2 separate regions of the Homo sapiens genome follow, and region 2 is linked to region 1. Evidence: fine-mapped expression QTL. Tissue or cell type: whole blood. Region 1 holds a variant in brackets; the other region holds the start of a gene. All regions are shown on one strand. Distances are from middle to middle.

What was found. PIP is the estimated chance that this variant, and not a neighbour inherited with it, causes the effect.
Region 2: it holds the start of LSM4, and the variant in region 1 is fine-mapped to the expression of LSM4 in whole blood (TOPMed, PIP above 0.99).

What each region holds. Positions count from the first base shown.
Region 1 is chr19:18,288,864-18,296,964 of GRCh38, forward strand. It overlaps LOC124904653 (a long non-coding RNA gene), which reads right to left and starts at 3,980. Exons shown (of 2, transcript XR_007067155.1): 1 at 3,709-3,980; 2 at 1,727-3,024. RefSeq lists enhancers at 1,127-1,766, 3,046-3,684, 3,685-4,324, 4,325-4,963, 4,329-4,408 and 1 more, cis regulatory regions at 1,416-1,784, 2,364-4,919 and silencers at 1,819-1,868, 2,549-2,978, 3,429-3,598, 4,553-4,755, 5,840-6,022 and 1 more. The variant G/A (reference allele first, on the strand shown) is at 4,475.
Region 2 is chr19:18,319,650-18,327,750 of GRCh38, forward strand. LSM4 (LSM4 homolog, U6 small nuclear RNA and mRNA degradation associated) reads right to left here and starts at 3,427. Exons shown (of 5, transcript NM_012321.5): 1 at 3,369-3,427. The coding sequence starts at 3,371. It overlaps LOC105372300 (a long non-coding RNA gene), which reads left to right. Exons shown (of 2, transcript XR_007067157.1): 2 at 2,085-2,348. RefSeq lists a silencer at 3,308-3,487 and enhancers at 3,548-3,767, 3,966-4,568.

The sequences.
Region 1 (8,101 bases):
CAGGAGATCGAGACCATCCTGGCTAACACGGTGAAAACCTGTCTCTACTAAAAATACAAAAAAAAAATTAGCCAGGCGTGGTGGGCAGGTACCTGTAGTCCCAGCTACTGGGGAGGCTGAGGCAGGAGAATGGTGTGAACCCGGGAGGCGGAGCTTGCAGTGAGCCAAGATCGCACCACTGAACTCCAGCCTGGGTGACAGAGTGAGACTCTGTCTCAAAAAAAAAAAAAAAAAAAAAAAAAAGATAAATTGGTTTGTAGTCTGAGCAGGGTGGCTCATGCTTATAATCCCAGCTCTTTGAGAGGCAGAGACAGGAGGATCTCCTGAGCCCAGAAGTTCAAGAGCAGCCTGGGCAACATAGCAAGAACCCATCTCTACAAAAAGATAGAAAAATTAGCTGGTTGGGAGGCTGAGGCGGGCGGATCACAAGGTGAGGAGATCGAGACCAGCCTGGCCAACATGGTGAAACCCCATCTCTACTAAAAATAGAAAAATTAGCCGGGTGTGGTGGCGCATGCCTGTAATCCCAGCTACTCAGGAGGCTGAGGCAGGAGAATCGCTTGAACCTGGGAGGCAGAGATTGCAGTGAGCTGAGATCGTGCCACTGCACTCCAGCCTGGGCAACAGAGCGAGACCCTGTCTCAAAAAAAAAAAAAGCTGGTTTGGTTTTTTGTTTCTTGGTTGTTTTGGGCCAAACTCACATACCATCATTCATCGATTCAACCATGCTTTTTTTTTTTTTTTTTTTTTTGGAGACAAAGTGTCACTCTGTCTCTGAGGCTGGTGTGCAGTGGCACGTTCTCAGCTCACTGCAATCTCTGCCTCCCAGGTTCAAGCAATTCTAGTGCCTCAGCCACCAGAGTAGCTGGGATTACAGGCACATGCCACCACACCAACTAATTTTTGTATTTTTAGTAGAGATGGGGTTTCTCCATGTTGACCAGGCTGGTCTTGAACTCCTCACCTCAAGTGATCCGCCTGCCTCAACCTCCAAAAGTTCTGGGATTATAGGCATGAGCCACTGCGCCCGACGACCATGCTCTATTGAGTGCCCGCTGTGTGCTGGGCAGGTGGGTTCTCACCGCCCAGAGGTGATGTTCTGGGGGACTGGAAGCAAGGTCATTTTAGAGAAGCATGCTGTAGGTTGGTCTCACGATTTTCCTTTAAGTTGGCCCCCTTTTCTGTTTTTACTTCAGTAAATACATTTTAAAAGGGAACCTTCATGTCACCACCAAGAATGGAAAACCAGTTTCTCTTGCTATAAATAGAAGGAAACCAAAAAACTATGAAATGAGAGCAAAGTCAGGCATTCCCACCTCAGGAACACTCAGGGCTGGGGCTGGACTTCGAATGTCTGAGTCTTATCAAAGGCAGGGAAGCCCCAAGCAGAAGGGCAGGAGGGGCCACAGGGACCCACTTGGCAGATGCTCCAGTCCCGTGGGTCCCAGCACACAGTAGGTGCTTGATGAATGTGTGTTGATCTGTTAACATGCAACCCATTATTGTAGGTGCCCCCCCCCACCATGATGTGTGGGTTTTGCCTGCATCCGACCACATACTCGTGGCTTTTCCAGGTACTGAGCCATTTCCCCGCTGACAGACTGAGGGCAGGGTGGTGCCTGAATGGGGAGGGGTGGGGGAGGTGGCAGGCAGCTGCCTCTTGGGCAGGGGACCCCACAGGGGCCTCTCTGGGGAGGCTTCGGTTTGGTTTGGTGACATGCCAGGATGCAGCTCTGGGCAAACGTTTATTTGCAGCCTTGGGGCTGTCCCCACCCACGGTCCTGTGGGCCCCTGACGTCTGTCCACACTGAGATGTGGGCCCCTGTGGCCCGCCGCCCTCCCTGGCTGTCTGTGGTGTGTGAATCAATGAATGAGTGAATGAGTAAAGGAATGAATGCAATAAGTAGCATAATGGATGAGTTCGTAGAATAATGAATGGATGAGTGAATTAATGAATGAGTGGAAGTATTCATGCTGCCAAGATGGGAAACCCATTCTCCAGGTATTCTTTTTTTTTTTTTTTAAGACACAGTCTTGCTCTGTCGCCCAGGCTGGAGTGCAATGGCACTATCTCGGCTCACTGCAGCCTCCACCTCCTGGGTTCAAGTGATTCTCCTGCCTCAGCCTCCTGAGTAGCTGGGATTACAGGCGTGCGCCACCACGCCCGGCTAATTTTTGTATTTTTGTAGAGACGGGATTTCACCATGTTGGCCAGGCTGGTCTGGAACTCCTGACCTCAAGTAATCCGTCCGCCTCGGCCTCCCAGAGTGCTGGGATTACAGGCGTGAGCCATCTAGATATGCTTTGTCCCCTTTTTTCGGATGGACAAACTGAGGCTGTCAGCCAAGAAAGGCTTCAGTATGTGGAAGGCAGATTCGAAGCCAGTTGGCCCTGCACATCGTGGGCTGCATTTCTGCACCAAGACTGGGGGTTCCTGGAGCGAGCTTAGGGGTCCGGACTGGTGCAGACGGGGCGCTGGACCTGGCCCCCAGCCAGCGGAAGGGATCTGGGCCCCAGATGGGGAGTAGATGGAACTGGAGGCAAGGCAGGCGGCAGGGGGTGAAGAGGCCGCTGCCCCAGGCTGCGGGGATGGGGAGGCACCGGCAGGGTCCGCGTTGATTCAGAAAGGACCCCAAGGAAGGAGCAACTTTGGGGGACCCCAAAGTTGTCTGAGTGGTATCAAAGGCCGTGCACATGGGGCCCTTAAGCGCTACAGCAGGGGCAATAGTGGAGAGACCCCACGCCTTCCCGCCTCCCGCTGCCCCCGCATCCCCTTCCTCCCGCCTCCCGCCTCCCCCCTGCTCCTCGCCTCTCGCTCTCCCGGGGAGGAAGTGGCGAGAATGCGGGGGTGGGCACCCTATTCTCACTTCCCCTGGGGAAGGGCGGGGCCTGCGGGGTCCTCTCCGCCGCCGGGAGACGGCATCTCCGCGTACAGGGGTGGGGGCGGGGAGCCCTAGGAGCTGGGCAGGCGCTGCTCAGTCCCTGGCCAGGTGACGTCCGTAAGTTTCCTGGTCTTCGATGGTTCTCGAATGAAAAATGGGGGGAAAGACATTGAGTTGGAAACAGCGAGTTGTTGGGGAGAGAGGACCCCACCCCGGGCCGGTACTAGCAGCCAGACACGGACACGCCCTGCCCCGGAGGGGTCAGGGCCAGGCCGAAGGGAGGGAAGTCGCAGTAAACACAGGGTTGGGTTGGGGCGGGAGGCGCATTCCAGGCGGAGGGAACGGCGCGGGCAGAGGCCTGGAGGCTGGTGGAGGCCTCCTGCCTCGCCTAGCTGCGGGGTCCTCAGCGTGTGGCCCCTCCCCTAATGGGAGGGGGGGAGAAAGGATCCGGGGGGAGAGGTCTCGGAGCTGTCGGCGGCAGTGGAAGAGTTAACTTCCCGGGGCTGCCGGACCCCGCCGCGAGCTGGCGGGTGGCGTCAGCGCCAACGTCAGGGCGAAGTGGTGCCGCGTAGACGCGGACGCTTCGGCCGCCCGGCCCCCACCCCACGCGGCGCTGGAGGCCGCGGGGATGGGGGCGGGGGCGGTCGGCCCTGCAAGCAATTTACTGGGCTCTGTGCAGAGAGGGAAATTGAGGCACGGGAACGGCCGTGGCCTGGCTGGTGCTAAGCCCGCTAGCCCGCGTCCCACACTACCGCCCCCTCCCAGCTCCTCCAGGTCGCCGGACGACCTGGAGCTGGTTTGGGCTTGTTTTCCATTGCGCAAATACCTGCGAATAAACGTTTGCCCCGAGCTGCGACTTGGCACATCACCACCTCTGCATGGCCTCAGTTTCCTCAACCGGATAATGGGGAGAGTTGACATTTAGTGTGGGCGCTGGGTTCGGCCTTGAAAAGGGGGTGTGGGAGGGGACTGCACCCCAAGAAAGAGGCTGGAGCGGGGACACCTGCGAGGCTGTCTGTGAATTCCGGGCTGGTTCTCCAGCCCCCTCCTCTCCTCCCGTCGCTCACTCCCCTCCTCTCCCTCCCCTTCCTGCTTCAGCTTCCCCTCCCCTCTTCCTTATCCCCTTCTCCCTCCCGTCTCCCCCGATCTCCTCTCCACCCCCTCTCTCCCTTTCCCCCGCCCGCCCAGCGAGGCCGCCCCACCGGACTGCTAATTAAATGCAGAGCTGGGGGGAAGGGACGGCGCGTGGTTAACCCCTTCCCCGCCGGGGCCCTGAACCGGGGATGGGGAAGGGTGTCCGCCACCGGAATTTCCTCCCCCCCAGGGGCAGGCCTTAAGCTCTAGGACAAGCCCATTTATTGAGTGGGTATATCGAGGCCAAAGGAACGGCCCCAACGTTCTGGGTGAGGCTGTACTAAATCGGGCCTCCTGATTGGAGGGCCAGAGCTTCGAGATAGCGGAAGAGAAAAGCAATATCGTGGCTTGGAAATAAACCAAGAGAAAAAAAAATGAGTTGGAAGGAGAGACAGCGGGAGAGGGAGGCTGGAAAAAAATCTAGGAGCAAGACAGAGACAGAGAGACAACCAGGTAAG[G/A]GAGGTGGAGCTCCGGGTGTGGCCTGGAGGCACCCAGGCAGGCTCCCGGTAGGAGGCGGCTTCCTGGAGGAACCTGTGGTGGAATAACTCCTGGCCCTGGTGTTAGCCTCCAGGCCTGGCTCACGCACTGACTGCTGACTTCTGATAGGGCCTTGTGGCCTGAAAGGAAGGTCATGCCTGCCTTTGGAGCCATCGGTCAACCCAAGTCCCCGCCCTGTCCCTGAAAACATCAGAGAGGAGCCCAGCGAAGCGAAGTGTGGGCTATGTGCTGTGAGGTGACTCAGTGGCCCCTCATTCTTGGGACGGGAACAACTGAAAGAAGTGAATGATATAAAGTCAGGTGGTGAGAAAGCAAATGACAGCAGGCGGAGGGAGTGTGGGGTGGGGGGGGCCAGAGGATCCATGATACCAGCAGCAGGGCCACCATGAGGATGCCCCAGGGAAGGGTGTTCCTGAAAGCTGGAGTAGCACGTGCAAAGGCCCTGGGGAGGAATTTGAGGTATTTGTTTGTTTGTTTTTTGAGAGGAGTCTCCCTCTGTCCCCCAGGCTGGAGTACAGTGGTGCGATCTCAGCTCACTGCAACCTCCACCTACCAGGTTCACGCGATTCTTCTGCCTCAGCCTCCCGAGTAGCTGGAATTACAGGCGTGCGCCACGATGCCCAGCTAATTTTGTATTTTTAGTAGACAGGGTTTCACCATATTGGCCAGGATGGTCTCCACCTCTTGATCTCGTGATTCGTCCGCCTCAGCCTCCTAAAGTGTTGGGATTACAGGCGTAAGCCACTGTACCCGGGCTGAATTTGAGGTGTGTTAAGGGAACATCCAGGAGGAGGCGTGGCGCAGGGTGAGGAGAGATGGAGGATTACAGGGGCCTCCAGATCCTAAGCAGGGAGGGTGGGGGGTGGCTTGAGTCCTTGGCCAGCCCAGGTGGAGCCTGTGACTGCTCTCCCTGCCTCACTTTTCCTACCATTATGCATGCTCCAGAAGCAGCAGGGGAGGCTTTGGGGATGTGGAGGTTGCCCAGGGTCACAGGGACCCCTGTTGTGCCCTCCGTCAGTGCCCCTCTGGCCTCCCCACACCCTCTGTGGCTCCCTGCTGTGGCCAGTCTTCCCCATCATCGCCCCTGGCTCTCTTCTCTCCTGCAGTCCAGCCACTCAGCCCTTGTACATGTCCCTCATCTGTTCTCACAATGCCCACCCCAGGTGACAACATCCTCCCAAGCCCCCTTCAGGAGATGGTGGGGCTGACACTAACAGGGGAGGGGGTGTAGGGAAGGTGAGCACCCTGGCCCCTGAGTGCTGCACACAAACTGTGTAAAAATAGCTGCTCCCCCTGCCCCCTGTGAGGAGGCGGCTGTGACGGTGGTGGCTGCAGTGACGGGGATGTGCCCAGAGAAGCATCCGGCAGGGCCAGTTGCCATGGTGATGCTGACTCAGCGGCAGAGGCAGGTAGCAGCATCTGGTACCCGGCCGGCACGCCTCTGCTTGGCCTACGCTCATAGCACCCTGTCCAGCCCCAACTTTCCAGCCTCCACCCTGGGGGTGTCTTCTGAGGCTGCAGAGGGGTGGGTGAGACCTCGGGAAGGACTGGACAAGTTCCTCCACCAGACACCACTCAGTCATCTGCTGGAAGGTGGGAGACGCTGCTTCTCATGGAGCGGACCTCAGTGTCAGGTCTTCCTCCCTCTATCAGCCATCCGCCCATCTACCTACTCACCCATCCATCCACTCATCCACCATCCACTCATCCCCCATCCATCCACCATCCACCCATCCATCTACCATCTGCCCATCTACCATCCATCCACCCACCTGTCCATCTATCCACCCATCCACCATCCACTCATCCCCCATCCATCATCCACCAATCAGTCCATCATCCACCCATCCATCCACCATCTACCCATTCATCCATCCATCCATTCCTCCACCCAGCGGCCATCCATCCATGCACCATCTACCCATCCACCATCTGCCCATCCACCATCCATCCATCTACCCACCATCCATCCATCTACCCACCCACCCATGCATCCACCATCCACCCATTCACCATCCACCCATCCACCATCCGTCCACCGTCCACCCATCCACCACCTAACCATCCACCAGCCATCCATCCACCTGTCTACCCACTGACCCATCCATCCACCATCCACTCACCCACCCATCCACCCATCCATCCACCCATCCACCTATCTACCCACCCACCCATGTATCCACCATCCACCCATTCACCATCCACCCATCCATCCACCATCTACCCATCCACCATCCATCCACCATCCACCTACCATCTACCCATCCACCATCCATCCACCATCCACTCATCCATCTACCATCTACCCATCCACCATCCATCCACCATCCACTCATCCATCTACCATCTACCCATCCACCATCCATCCATCCATCCACCTATCTACCCACCAATCCATCCATCCACCATCCACTCATCCACCCATCCATCCACCATCCACCCATCCACCTATCTACCCACCCACCCATCCATCCACCCATCCATCCACCCATCCACCTATCCACCATCCACCCATCCGTCCACCATCCACCCTTCCATCCACCAATCCACCTATTCATCCAGCCACCCATCCACTTACCACACACCCACCCATCCATCCATTCCTGTGTTCATCCATTCACTCAACATTTTTGGAGCACTTACCGTGTACTGACATCCTTCTGGGCACATGGTGGTTGCCACTGTCGATGCAGGCAGGGTATCAGCAGTCTGGGGTGCAGGGACTTGGGTGAGGACAAGGCCTCCTTGGCTACTTGGAGCCAGGCCTTGAGATGCTGAGGCCCTATCTCTTCCTTGTTCTCCTAGTCTTGCTCCCTCTCTCTTCCTGCATCTCTCAATCTCTCTGTTTTCCCATCTGAGTCCATCTTAGATCCTTCCCCATATCCCCAGGCCCCCCAGCAGCTGCCGTCTATTCCCCTCTTCTTCTCCCCACTCACTTGTTCCATGCCAGCTTTCCCTTGGGTACAGCTATGTATTCCCACCTCGGGGTCTTTGCACATGCTGTTCCCACTGTCTGGGAGACTCACTCACCTGGAATTGATCATATTTAATTCTTGGCTGGCTTTCTTTCTTTCTTTCTCTCTCTCTCTCTTTTTTTTTTTGAGATGGAGTCTCACTCTGTTGCCCAGGATGGAGTGCAGTGACGCAGTCACAGCTCACTGCCCCCTCCATCTCCCGGGTTCAAGCGATTCACCTGCCTCAGCGTCCCGAGTAGCTGGGATTACAGGCACACGGCACCACACCCTGCTAATTTTTGTATTTTTAGTAGAAACGGGGTTTCACCATGTTGGCCAGGCTGGTCTTGAACTCCTGACCTCAGGTGATCTGCCCACCTTGGCCTCCCAAAGTGCTCTGGGTTTACCATATTTAATTCTTGCCTTCCTTAATGTCTGCCTCTATCCCCATCCCCAGAGTATAAAGGCCAAAGAGCTGACCTGTGGTTCTTTCAGGGACCTATTTGTGCCTTCATATCTCCAACTACGAAATGGGTAAATGGACATGGTGCTAGCAGGATGACCTCATAACTGGGGCAGGGGTTGGGAGGAAGCCCTTAGACCTGTGCCCACTGCAGATTAAACACTCAGTAA
Region 2 (8,101 bases), 31 kb after region 1:
CAGACAGGCTCTGCCACACTGGCCGCCACACCCATTCCTGCCACCTGACCTTTGCTTCTGCTATTGCCTCTGCCTGGGGTGACCTTCCCCAGGCTGCTGAAACGTCACCTCCTTTGGCCAGGCCCTTTTAATGGCCACCCTCTGCCTCATGGGTGTTTGTTTCCATCATAGGATGCAGCCAGTCTTTAATTACCTTGTTTATTACCTGTGTCCCTCGCTAGACTGGAACACTCAAAGTGGGTGTGGACTTTGTCCAGGGCCAAGCACAAGGCCAGGCACATGAGAGGGACTCGGTAAATATTTGCTGAATAAATACACAAGAAAAATGCACACACTACCCAGGGAGGCATGCAGGGAAGGCAGAACACTCGCCCCACCCCACAGGTAAGGGAAGGAGTGGCTGCGGGACAGGGAGCTGCCTGACTCCCAGGCCCTCCCAGGCTGCAATGGCCTGGGCCTGTGACCATATATCTTGATTTCTCCTACATCCTCATCTCCAAACTCTGTTGGAGAGAGGTCAGAGGAAGGGGTGGATCCTCAAAATCTTAAAAGAAGATACATCAAAGTGCCAGGTGAGGCTGGGCACAGTGGCTTGTGCCTGCAATCACAGCACTTTGGGAGACTGAGGTGGGAGGATCGCTTGAGCCCAGGAGTATGAGACCAGCTTGGGCAACACAAAAGATTCTGTCTCTACAAAAAATCTAGAAATTAGCCAGGTTTAGTGATGCATGCCTGTGGTCCCAGCTACTTGGGAGGCTGAGGTCAGGTGGGAGGATCACGGGCCAGTGAGGTTGAGGCTGTAGTGATTGTGCCACTGCACTCCAGCCTGGATGAGAGTGAGATCTCAGCTCTGAAAAACAAAAAAAGTCTAGAGTGCAGTGGCTCACGCCTGTAATCCCAGCACTTTGAGAGGCCGAGGTGGGTGGATCACCTGAGCTCAGGGGTTCAAGACTAGCCTGGCCAACATAGTGAAACCTGATCTCTACTGAAAATACAAAAATTATCCAGGTGTGGTGGTGCGTGCCTGTAATCACAGCTACTTGGGAGGCTGAGGTAGGAGAATCACTCTCGGAGAGGTGGAGGTTGCAGTGAGCTGAGATTACACCACTGCACTTCAGCCTGGGCGACAGAACAAGACTCTGTCTCAAAAAAATAAATAAAATGAAATAGAAAAAGAAAAAAAGTGCCAAGTGTGATAGGAGAGGCCCCACCCTGGTTTATGGAAGGTCACAAGAAAATTCAGAAAAGAGAATTCCTTTCTCTGGGCTTTCTTGGAGCATCTGGAATCTGGTTCTCAGGTCTAGATCCACGAGGACCTAAACCCAGTGCCTCCTAATTCAGGAAGCTGTCCAGGACTGCCCATCCCCGCTGCTAACCTAGGCCACTCCTTCTGGCCCTGCCCTGACGACAGGGAACTGGAAGTGTGTATCCTGTGATGGCTTGTCCATTCTCGGCTACTCCTCCAGGAAACAGCTGGACAGCCAGGACTCTGGATGTTCAGAAGGTGGGAAGGGGCTGAATGAATGAGTTCACACTTTGCCCACGCACCGTTCTACATACTGGGAATCTAGTCGGAAGAAAAACGAAGATCCTGCTCCCACAAAACTTAACACAGGGATGGATCCTTCCAGCTCTGCCCAGTCTTACATGCCAACTCTGCCCTCTAAGTACACCGCAGAGAGGGACAGGCTCTCTGAATCCTTGCACTTGAAATCGCCTTTGCAAAAATTGTAGCGGGAAATTATGACAGTGAAAAGAGATCAGACCTAACCGACTCCATTGTGCTTCTAACCTTTACGCCATCTTTGCTTATTCCTAGGTATAGGCCAAACTAACCTTGGGAAGGGATTTAGTTTATAGTTTGACTCTGGAACAAAATTGGTAATAGCCCTTTCCCGAAAAGACCCTCTTCTTGCCTGGGGACCAGTCTGCCTTTGTAGGACTAACAAATAAGCTACAAGATTAGAAATTACCATTTAGGTAACTTCAGCCTCTGGCTGCAAGAGTCTGAAACTCCCCAAATTGCTCCTTGGGATAACATCACTATTATAAAATCTAAGATCAGTGCTTGAGATATTTTGCAGACCCCGTACTTGACGGATCAGCTGACACTACCCAGACCAGTAATCTGGCTCAACCAGTCCTGCGATCCCACCCAGGAACAGAAGACAGCAAGAAAACCTCACTTCAACACTCCCGTCGATGACTCCATCGACCTCAGGAAGCTCCAACCAATCAGCACTCCCCACTTCCTGAGCCCCTACCCGCCAAATTATCTTTCAAAACTCGGATCCCCTAATGCTCAGCGGAGACTGATTTGAGCAATAATAAAACTCTGGTCTCCTGCATAGCTGGCTCTGTGTGAAATACTCTTTCTCCACTGCAATTCCCCTGTCTTGATAAATCTGTCTAGGAAGACAGGCAAGGTGAACCCATTGGGTGGTTACACACTGACCAGCCGGATTTAGGGAGAGTTCTCACTAATCCACAGTTCTGATGCAGCCACCCCTGGGGGACCCTCCTGGTTACTGAATCTCCCACTGTCTCACAGAGTCTGGAAGTCACATCCCCAACAAGGGCCTTGGTTTCTCTCATTGAAAAAAGAAGGACCAGAAGCTGATGGGCCAGGAAACTCCCAGCTCTGAATTCCTTTTCCGATCTGCACAGTGGGGGACACGGGCACTTTCTAGCCCAGATCCAGAACTTCCAGAATCATAAACAATGGGCCCTGCAGAGACCTGGGCCGCAATTTTTCCTTCTTTGTATTGGGAGGATGTACTTTGTCCACCCCTAGCTCAAAACGCCCCCTTCCGCTGGAATGACATGCTATGTGACCCAAGGAGAAACACCACACCCCAGCACCAGGCCTGCTTTTCAGCCAGAAACCAAGAGGCCTAGGAGGCTGTGCTGCTAGCATCTTGCAAGCTCTGAAATTCCTAAAACTAAGTTTCACAACTCAGACTGGCCCCCTACTTCCCAGCACTCTAGTTTTCAATCAGGGAGGTCAGACTGGGCCCGAAGCGTAAGGGACCCCTTCCCTGCCCAAAAACTCTCTGCTGCATTTGGCGGATCCCCACCTTTTTTTTTTTTACTTCAGTTTCCCCACCTGCAAACTGGGAAAACTAACTAAGGCGAGGCCACTGTACTGTGGATACAAGTCCGTGCAACCCTAAATCCCAGACACGAACGTGATAGAGCCACCTGCAGTCTCCGGCCTCAGTTTCCCAGCCTCGTGCCGGGGGGCGGGACTCGAGGCTCGGACCTTACGTTCGCCCCGCGCCAACCAAGCCCACAGCGCCCGCCCGCAGGGATCCCAACGACTGCTGTTCCCGCCTCCCGGTGAGACCCCGCAGTTGCCCTGCCCTCACCATGGTGCCGGCGGGGACCGGGCTCGCCGGCCACTTCCGCCGCCGCCGCTGCACACGCTCCCGGCGGTCGTCGCCGCGCCGCGCGCCACTAAGCTGAAAGAAAGTGGCAGAGACGCAAGCCAGTCAGCACCGGGCTCGAAGGGCGGTCAACCAATCCACGCGGAGTAGGGCGGGGCCCGCTGGGCGAAAGGGCGGGGCGGGCCGTGTTCCCGCCGGAGGAACGAGGACGAGAGCCGTAAAGTGCCGCGGCTTGTAATGCAAAAGGAGGCGGAGCAACGCGCGCCGGCGCGGGGTGCATTGTGAGGAAATGCGTGCGCAGGTGAAACCTTCGTCGGTCTCCTGGGCTCCACGCTGTGGGCAAAGCCAGTTAATGCCTTTCGTTTGCAGTAGAGAGAGAGAAATCGAGGCTTCGTGGTGATTGGGCCGTGCCTGATGTTGCCCTTCCGACTCCTAGTTTTCTGATTCTGTAATTATCCAGGGAACATCATTTAATAGGTTGGAATCCTGACCACGACCCTCGGGGCCTCAGTTTGCTCCCTGTAAATAGTAGTGTCTGCTCCAAAACGTTGCTTACTGTAAGGATGAAATGAATGAAACCATGTAAAAGCACTTAAAACAGCGTCTGGCACATATTAAGTACTTATTACCTACTCTGTGCCTGTTTCTGCTCACAGAATGAACAAAACACAAAATTCGTGGCCCTCAGGGAGACAGACAGTAAACAAAGTAAATAGGCGAATGCTATTAGTTTTCTGGGGCCTGCTGTAACAAATGCCCACACACTGCGAGGTTTAAAACAACAGAACGTGATTTTCTCACAATTCAAGAGATCAGAATAATGAAGTGAGGTTGTCAGCACAGTTGGCTCCCTCTGGAGGCTCTGAGGACAATCTGTGTGTCCTATGCCTCTCTCCTGGGTTCTGGTGGCTGCTGGGAATCCTTGGAGTTCTTGGCTTGTAGATGCAGCCTTCCGCGTTCTGCCTTTGTCGTCACTTGGCCTTCTCTGTGTGTCTCTGAGTCTCAAATGTATCTCTCCTTTTTTTTTTCTTTTTTTTTTTTGTAGTAGAGACAGGGTCTCCCTATGTTGTCCAGGCTGGTCTCGAACTCCTGGGGTCAAGCAATCCTCCCTCCTCTGCCTCCCAAAGTGCTGGGATTACAGGCGTGAGCCACCGAGCCCGGCCGCTCCTTTTTCTTGTAAAGGACACTCCTTTCTCTTATTAAGTCCACCATAAATTTCAGGATAATGTCATCTCAAGATCCTTAATTACATCTGCGAAGACCCTGTTCTTTTTTTTTTGAGATGGAGTCTCATTCTATCACCCAGGCTGCAGTGCAGTGGTGCGATCTCAGCTCACTGCAACCCCTCCCTCCTGGGTTCAAGGGATTCTTCTGCCTCAGCCACCCGAGTGGCTAGGATTACAGGCACATGCCACAATGCCCAGCTAATTTTTGTATTTTTAGCAGAGACGGGGTTTTGCCATGTTGGCCAGGAGGTGGCCTCGAACTCCTGACCTCAGGTGATCCTTCCACCTTGGCCTCCCAAAGTGCTGGGATTACAGGCATGAGTCACCACGCCCAGCCTCGTTTTTAAATGACTGATGCTATTTATTGACATTATTCATAATATCAAAAGACTGAAAAAAACCCAATGCGACCAAATAATAGAGTAATACAGCTATAAAAAGGAATGAAGACAATCTTCATATACTGACATTGAATGGTGTCTGGATATCTTAAGTGAAAAAAACCAAGGTAGAGAACAGTTTTTACAATATGTCCTCTTTTGTGTGCAAAAAGAGAAATACATGCATGTGTATGTGTATATATATTTGCATGTGTGTGTGTATATATATATATATATATATTTTTTTTTTTTAACCACACCAAGCACGTGAACCAAATTTGCTTATATTTTTAATAAGAAACATAAAGGCCAGGCTCAGTGGCTCATGCCTGTAATTGCAGCACTTTGGGAGGCCGCGGTGGGCAGATCACCTGAGGTCAGGAGTTTGAGACCAGCCTGGCCAATATGGTGAAACCCCATCTCTACTAAAAATACAAAAAAATTATCTGGGCATGGTGGCGGGCACCTGTAATCCCAGCTACTCTGGGGGCTGAGGCAGGAGAATTGCTTGACCCCGGGAGGTAGAGGTTGCAGTGAGCCGAGAACGTGCCACTGCACTGCAGCCTGGGCGACAGAGTGAGACTCTGTCTCAAAAAAAAAAAAAAAAAGAAACGTAAAAAGTACGAACCAGGCCAGGAGCGGTGGCCCATGCCTGTAATCCCAGCACTCTGAGAGGCTGAGGTGGCTGGACCACTTGAGCCCAGGAGTTCCAGACCAGCCTGGGAAATACAGCAGCAAAACCCTGAATCTACAAAAAATGCAAACAAGTAGCCAAGTGTGGTGACTGTGCATGAAGTCTCAGCTACTCAGGAGGCTGAGCAGGGAGAACTGCTTGAGCCTAGGAGGCAGAGGTTGCAGTAAGCTGTGATCCTGCCTCTGCACTCCAGCCTGGGTGACAGAGCAACACACTGTCTCAAAACAAACAAACAAAAGAAGCATGAACCAAAATATAGGCCAGGCACGGTGTCTCACACTTTAATCCCAGCATTTTGGGAGGCTGAGGCAGGTGGATCACCTGAGGTCATGAGTTCGAGACCAGCCTGGCCAACATGGTAAAACCCCATCTCTATAAAAATACAAAAATTATCTGGGCGTGGTGGCGCGTGCCTGTAGTCCCAGCTACTCAGAAGGCTGAGGCAGGAGAATCACTTGAACCCGGTTAGGAGGAGGTTACAGTGCATGCCATTGCACTCCAGCCTGGGTGACAGAGCAAGACTCCATCTCAAAAAAAAAAAAAAAAAAAAAAAAGTAACCTGGGAGAATAAGGGAACAAGATGAAATCATAAGAATGAAAGCCAGACTTCTTTCAGTGTACCTTATTGTCTAGTTTCAACTTTGGAAGCATAATTAAAAATAAAAGTCAAAAGGAAAAATCAAAAGAAATCCCTAAAAATGGAAACAAACAAATGAACCTCACTGTATATCAAGTTGCAAAGACCCTATTTCAATTACAGTCACATTCACAGCTACCAGCAGGTTAGGATTTGGATATACGTGTGTGTGTGTGTGTGTAAATTTTTTTACGACTGCGTCCCTCTTGCCCAGGTTGGAGTATAGTGGTGCCATATGGCTTATTGCATCCGCAACTTCCTGGGGTCAAGTGATCCTCCCATCTCAGCCTCTGAGTAGCTGAGACTGCACACAGGTGTCACCGCCACGCCCAGCTTATTTATTAATTTAATTTATTTATTTATTCATTTTGTAGAGATGGGGGTCTGCTTGTTGCCCTGCCCTCACCGTGCTAGCCTCCAACTCCTGGGCTCAAGAGATCCTCCCACCTTGGCCTCCCAAAGTGCCAGGATTATAGGCATGAGCCACCATGCCCAGCTGGGATATATATTTTTAGGGGCTACTACTCATTACATCAAGTATCAGCTGTGGTAGCTTTAAACATAGGCATTTATTTGAGTAGTTTACTTCTCCACAGTGACATGCCTATAGTTTTTTTTTTTTTTTTTTTTTGAAACAGAGTCTCATTCTGTCACTCAGGCTGGAGTACAGTGGCGCGATCTCGGCTCACTGCAACCTCCACCTCCTGGGTTCAAGCGATTCTCCTGCCTCAGCCTCCCAAGTAGCTGGGATTACAGGTGTGCACCACCACACACAGCTAATTTTTGTATTTTTAGTAGAGACGGGGTTTCACCATGTTGGCCAGGCTGGTCTCAAACTCCTGACCTCGGGTGATCCACCTGCCTCGGCCTCCCAAAGCGCTGGGATTGCAGGAGTGAACCACTGTGCCCGGCCAATGACATGCCTATAGTTACATACACTTGCAAGCAGGACTATAACCTGAATTCCTAGAAGAGGCTTATCTAGGTGCCAATCAAAGGTTCCATCCCCTGGCCACATGCCTTGACTTTCAGGCCTACAAATGAGCAATAGGGGACCTCATAAAGTGACTCCTTGTATCCCAGCCTCCTGAGTCTCAGCACTGCCCTGAGAGCCTTTTCTTACCAAGTCCAGGGTGAGGAACTTCTGGCTGAAAGGACCCTATGCCTCTCAGAGCTGAACTGGGGAACCCTTGTTCAACTTCTCAAAGATTTTCCTGCTGGGCATGGCGGAGCACGCCTGTAGTCCCAGCTACTCAGGAGGCCGAGGCAGGATGATCGTTTGAGCCCAGCAGTTCGAAATCCCAATTCCCTGATCCTTCTGACTGGCACCACATCCAGGTGGAGTGGACTCTGGAGGTCTGAGAAAGCCCAGGGAGCCTTATAAGAGGAAGCCAGGCCAGGCGCAGTGGCTCACACGTATAATCCCAGCACTTTGGGACGCCGAGGTGGGAGGAGATCACTTGAGCCAGAAGTTCCAGACCAGACTGGGCAACATAATAAGACCTACGTCTCTACTAAAAATTTTAAAATAGGCCAGGCATGGTGGCTCATGCCTGTAATCCCAGCACTTTGGGAGGCCGAAAGTTCAGGAAAGTTCAGGTTCAGGACCAGCCTGGCCAACATGGTGGAAACCCTGTCTCTACTGAAAAAAAAAAAAAATACAAAAATTAGCTGGGTGTGGTGGTGCGCCTGTAATCCCAGCTACTCAGGAGGCTGAGGTGGGAGAATTGCTTGAACTAGGGAGGTGGAGGCTGCAGTGAGACCAGATTGCACCACCG